Linked DNA regions of Homo sapiens: region 2 is linked to region 1. The links come from fine-mapping of genetic effects on gene expression. A gene starts in region 1. The other region holds a variant in brackets. All regions are shown on one strand. Distances are between the middles of the regions.

What was found. PIP is the estimated chance that this variant, and not a neighbour inherited with it, causes the effect.
Region 2: its variant is the best candidate, but not a certain one, in a credible set for the expression of CCDC8 in aorta (GTEx, PIP 0.63).

Annotation. Positions count from the first base shown.
Region 1 is chr19:46,412,055-46,414,961 of GRCh38, reverse strand. It overlaps CCDC8 (coiled-coil domain containing 8 subunit of 3M complex), which reads left to right and starts at 1,398. Exons shown (of 1, transcript NM_032040.5): 1 at 1,398-2,907. The coding sequence starts at 2,152. RefSeq lists enhancers at 1-524, 2,191-2,907.
Region 2 is chr19:46,466,824-46,469,730 of GRCh38, reverse strand. It overlaps PNMA8A (PNMA family member 8A), which reads left to right. Exons shown (of 3, transcript NM_018215.4): 3 at 1,154-2,907. The coding sequence ends at 1,170. Among named protein-coding and RNA genes, the nearest start is that of PNMA8A, 3.3 kb to the left of the region's middle. The variant C/T (reference allele first, on the strand shown) is at 1,625.

The sequences.
Region 1 (2,907 bases):
CAGTGGTGCGATCGCGGCTCACTGCAACCTCCGCCTCCCGGGTTCAAGAGATTCTTCTGCCTCAGCCTCCCGAGTAGCTGGGACTACAGGCACGTACCACCACGCGCGGCTAATTTTTTTGCATTTTTAGTAGAGACAGGGTTTCACCGCGTTAGCCAGGATGGTCTTGTCTTGATCTCCTGACCTCGTGATCTGCCCGCCTCAGCCTCCCAAAGGGCTGGGATTACAGGCGTGAGCCACCGCGCCTGGCCATCTTGACTCTTTGGTCGACACAAAAGGCAGACTATTCTGGATTCAAATCCAAACTCAACCACTCCCCATGGCTGTGACCTTGAGAGTGTGGTTTTATGTCCTTGGGCCTCAGTTTCCTCAGCTGTCTAATGGGAATTGTACTCATGCTACCAGTCTCCTGTTATAGCAAGGATTTCCTGAGTTCATTCATAGAAAGCACTGGGAATGGTGCCTACTACATAGGAAGCGCCTCATAAACCGTGCCTATCCTTAGCCATCTCATTCTTTTTTCGAAGTTGCAAAATATTTCACTGTAAGATACTACCATAAAATAGAGGCAGTCTCTACTCGTGAACTTTTAGGGTTTTTTGTTGTTGTTTATTTGTAGGGGTTTTTTTGCACTTTTGTTTTTTTGAGACAGTCTCCCTCTGTTGCGCAGGCCGGAGTGCAGTGGCGCGATCTCTGCAACCTCCACCTCCCAGGTTCACGCCATTCTCCTGCCTCAGCCTCTCGCGTAGCTTGGGACTACGCACGCGCACCACCACACCCGGGGTAGAGACGAGGGTTTCACCATGTTGGGCAGGCTGGTCTCGAACTCCTGGCCTCAAGTGTTCCACCCACCTGGGCCTCCCAAAGTGCTGGCATTACAGGCATGAGCCACCGCGCCTGGCCATGAACATTTGGGTTTATTCATCCCCTCAAAAATATGTATTGAGCCCTGACCTGCCAAGCGCCACAGTGGGACTGTTGCAGTCAGGTACCCATTTCTCTACCCACGCATATAGGTGTACGGGTACCGATAGTCGCGTGAATTTAAAATGCTAATCTGTGGTGCCAGTGGCTCTCAAAAAGTAGAATCCACTAGCACACCCACCTCCCGGACTTGGCTGGAAACTTGCACATTTCGGATGGCAGGTTTGGGAACCGCTGCCTTTCAGGAAAGGTGCTGACGTGGGCCACTGCCGCTTCGCTGGGAAGCAATGGGCCCAGCTAGGCCCGGGGCGCGGCCACACCCCTGTGGGGGAGGGGAAGGAGGCCGCCCCGAAGGGAGTGGACAGCCCCCCTGTCAGTCTTCCAGAGTCTGGGAGTGTAAGATGAGACGGGGGAAGGTGGGCCTCATTCTGGCGGAGGGCGAGGAGGAACTTCCTGCCCGCGCGCTCCACGGTGCAGAGCTCTAAGCGCGCGGGCTGGCAGGCTGCGGCGCGTCAAGGTCAGCCTGGAGCTGGGTGGCGGCCTGCCTGGGGGCGGGGGACCCTACTGGAGGCCCGGGCTGGGGCCTCCCAGCGCCTCGGCCATATTGAATAGCTTCGACTGGACCGTCTTTGTCTGCGAAGTCCTGTCCCAAGTTCCAGCCGCGTCCCTGGGGCCTGGGGCAGGAAGAGTCGCTGGCAGCCCGCGCGCCCCAACTTGGAGCTGGGACACCACGTTTCCAGCTTGGAGTGGGCCTTGAGCCTTGGGACTGACCTCGCCCCCGGCTCACGTAGGCATCCTGGAAATTGATTCCCCCAAGTCCTTGGTGGGGGAGCCGGACTTGGTCAAGACTGTACTTGTTGCAGGCGAAGAGATTGGAGGCGTTTGGCTCGTCCCTGGCTAGGGAGGTGAGACTCTCCGGTCAGCGTTGCTGGAACTCCCCCCATCCAGTCCCTCCCTCAAGACTAAGGGCTACAGTAGTTTGTTGGGGCTCATTGCCCCCTCACCCCAGATATCACCCTGGAGATCTTAAAGACTCTCGAGAAAAGCCACGTGGGGGGCTGGTTCCCCTGGGGCTTCCTGCCGTCCCCCGACTGCCTCATTCTTTGGAGCGTCCCCGATGTCTGCAAAGATGTGGATTTGGACGTCCTCGTGGAAGCCCTAAAGCCCGTGGGGACATTTAAGAAGATCGGCAAGGTGTTCCGCAAGGAGGAGGACTCCACGGTGGGGATGCTGCAGATCGGGGAGGACGTCGACTATTTGCTCATCCCCCGGGAGGTCAGGCTGGCTGGGGGCGTCTGGAGAGTCATCTCTAAGCCCGCCACCAAGGAAGCAGAATTTCGGGAGCGGCTGACCCAGTTCCTGGAAGAAGAGGGCCGCACCCTGGAGGACGTGGCCCGCATCATGGAGAAGAGCACCCCGCACCCGCCCCAGCCCCCCAAAAAGCCCAAGGAGCCCCGAGTGAGGAGGAGAGTGCAGCAGATGGTGACTCCTCCGCCCCGGCTGGTCGTGGGCACGTACGACAGCAGCAACGCCAGCGACAGCGAGTTCAGCGACTTCGAGACCTCCAGAGACAAGAGCCGCCAGGGCCCGCGGCGGGGCAAGAAGGTGCGCAAAATGCCCGTCAGCTACCTGGGCAGCAAGTTCCTGGGAAGCGACCTGGAGAGTGAGGATGATGAGGAACTGGTCGAGGCCTTCCTCCGGCGACAGGAGAAGCAGCCCAGCGCGCCGCCTGCCCGCCGCCGCGTCAACCTGCCAGTGCCCATGTTTGAGGACAACCTGGGGCCTCAGCTGTCCAAAGCGGACAGGTGGCGGGAGTATGTCAGCCAGGTGTCCTGGGGGAAGCTGAAGCGGAGGGTGAAGGGTTGGGCGCCGAGGGCGGGCCCCGGGGTGGGCGAGGCCCGGCTGGCCTCCACCGCAGTGGAGAGCGCAGGGGTATCATCGGCGCCAGAGGGCACCAGCCCGGGGGATCGCTTGGGAAACGCG
Region 2 (2,907 bases), 55 kb before region 1:
GAGAATGATAGCAGAAGTGACTGGGCTCGTGCCAGCAAGTGGATGAGGCAGGAGGAGCAGGAGTGGCAGGTGGGGCAGAGGAGCCCGAGGAGGTGGTGGGTCAAGCGGGTGATGAGGAGGACCCTGGTGCATGGCAGGAGGTGGATGACACACCAGTTGAGGAGGGTAAGAGCCCAGACCGCCCTTCCAGGAGCCCCTGAAGGCCGATGCTGGAGACATCTGGTGGGCAGGAGGTGGCAGAGGAAACCCACAATGAGTGTCACTGTGGTCATTTGCCACTCCATCTGACCCATCTTCCTTGATGAGAATTTAATGGTTTGGGCCCAGGCTTGGTGGCTCATGCCTGTAATCCCAGCACTTTGGGAAGCCAAGGTGGGCAGATCGCCTGAGGTCAGGAGTTCAAGACCAGCCTGGCCAACATGGTGAAACCCCGTCTCTACTAAAAATACAAAAAATTAGCCGGGTGTGGTGCCACATACCTGTAATCCCAGCTACTCGGGAGGCTGAGGCAGGAGAATCTCTTGAACCCGGGAGGTGGAGGTTGCAGTGAGCCTAGATTGTGCCACTGCCCTCCAGCCTGGGTGACGAGAGTGAGACTCTTGTCTCCAAAAAAAAAAAAAAGAATTTAATGATTTGGGAGGCCAAGGCAGACAGATCACCTGAGGTCAGGAGTTCGAGACCAGCCTGGCCAACATGGTGAAACCCCATCTCTACTAAAAATACAAAAATTAGCTGGGCATGGTGGTTTGTGCCTGTAATCCCAGCTACTGGGGAGGCCAAGGCCTGGGATTGGCCTCCAGACATCTGCCCACCAGATGTCTCCAGCATCGGCCTTCAGGGGCTCCTGGAAGGGCGGTCTGGGCTCTTACCCTCCCTGAACCTGGGAGGTGGAGGTTGCAGGGAGCCAAGATCACACTGCTGCACTCCAGCCTGGGCGATAGAGTGAAACCCTGTTCCCCCCTCCCCCCAAAAAAAATATTAATACTTTGGAGTTATGGTGTTTGCAGGGTATGTGGCTTTAAGGGTGAAGTTTTCTAGAGACCTGGCTGGGGAATAGAAATGTTCAGGGACCCAGAAATTTCTTGGAAGTAATGCATTTCCTAATGACACCTCTCTGCTTCCCTTCTTGATCTGTTCTCTCATTTATTTGCAGAATCCAGAAAGGTTTGATCTGGGGGACCACCCATACTGAGGAGTTGAAAGAACAAGGAAGAAGTACCAAGTCAACCAAGTTCTCTCTTGTCACTGAATAAGACTTTGGACTCTCTTAGGGCCCCTGTTGATAGAGATCTGGCCCTGAGGTAAACGATAGGTGAGGTCTTGGGTGGGAGGGAGTTGGGGAAGGGAGGTGGATCTCTATGCCCTTTTCTCTACCAGGCCTGCCGTTTCACCGCCTTCTCTACTCACCTTCTCTTCGGAGGCAGGAGAGTTGGTAAGAGGATTGGGAAAATTCTAGAACATTCATTCCCCTTTATGCATGAGCAGGGTCACTGTTACACTCATCCATGTTCAGCTTTTCTCCCCCACGCCTTGCTCCCTCCTCGGAATGGTCAGCGACCTCTGCAGGCCCTGGCATTTGGAAGAGCTGGGTGGCCCTGCCATATTCTTCCTCCCGCCTTCCTCT[C/T]GTGTAACCAGCGGGGTAAGTTAAGCCAGGACCTTCGCTGCAAACCTGGTTTTATTGCTCCTTCAGTCTCCAGCTTCCATCCTCCAGTTATCTAGCCAGGAGGTCCCAAGAGTTAGTTTTAGGGAAAAAGAATGTCTGCCTAGACCTCAAAGTCTTTGAGTTTTAGAGTCTGTTAGTAAAAATGGCACTTTGATTCCCATTTGGGATGAGCCCTCTCAGGAATCCTGTGGGGAAGGGGGGTGATTATAGGGAAGGACGCAGGCATTCCTAGGTCCCCAGCTCTAATTCCATCCATCTACCCAACTGTCACCATCTTTGCACCAAACTGTCACCATCTTTGCAGCAGAAGGTCACTACTCACATTATAGTAAGAGGGGAAAAAAATCTTTTAAAACTTGGCTGTTGGCCGGGCACGGTGGCTCACGCCTGTAATCCCAGCACTTTGGGAGGCTGAGGCAGGTCGATCACGAGGTCAGGCGTTTAAGACCAGCTTGACCAACATGGTGAAACCCCATCTCTACAAAAATTAGCTGGGCGTGGTGGCGCGCGCCTGTAATCCCAGCTACTCAGGAGGCTGAGGCAGATGAATTGCTTGAATCCAGGAGGCAGAGGTTGCAATGAGCCGAGATTGTGCCACGGCACTCCAGCCTGGGCAGCAGAGTGAGACTCTCTCTCAAAAAAACAAAACTTGGCTGTTAATGTCTGCCCTCTGAATTCAGACACACTATATTAGACCAGACCACCATGTGTCATTGTGTGTGTGTGTGTGTGTGTTTGCGTGCGCATGTGTAGAGGAGAGAGCAGGGTCCCTGAGATAATGGTTTCCAAACTGTATCGTAGCCGTCCACAAAGATGTAATCCAAATCTATTTTTCTCACGTGTTTAAAAAACTGAAAAGTGACTACTCAGATATGTTGGAAGTCACATCGAAGACTATCAGAATATTACCTTGTGTTCATAGGTTAACTTGTTTTTGTACACGTCTTAGTTATTTCAGGCATCTCTTTGCTTAAAATTGAGTTTCTTGTAAATGTGACTGATGAGCGAGGTTAGAAGTGGAAGAAATTCCTGTGCATGTTCTATAATCTGACACCCTGAAAGCAAGTTTCCTTTCGTCATTCACATGCTCTTGTTCTGCCGTGACTGTTCAGGTGTATGGTAGTAAGTAAATGTATTAACATGGTGAACAGTAGTAATATTCTATCATAGAGTATTAGCCCTTGCAAGTTTTCAGGGCGTCTTTTCCGACTTCAGTTTTTGTGATAAAGAATGTGAACAGTTGT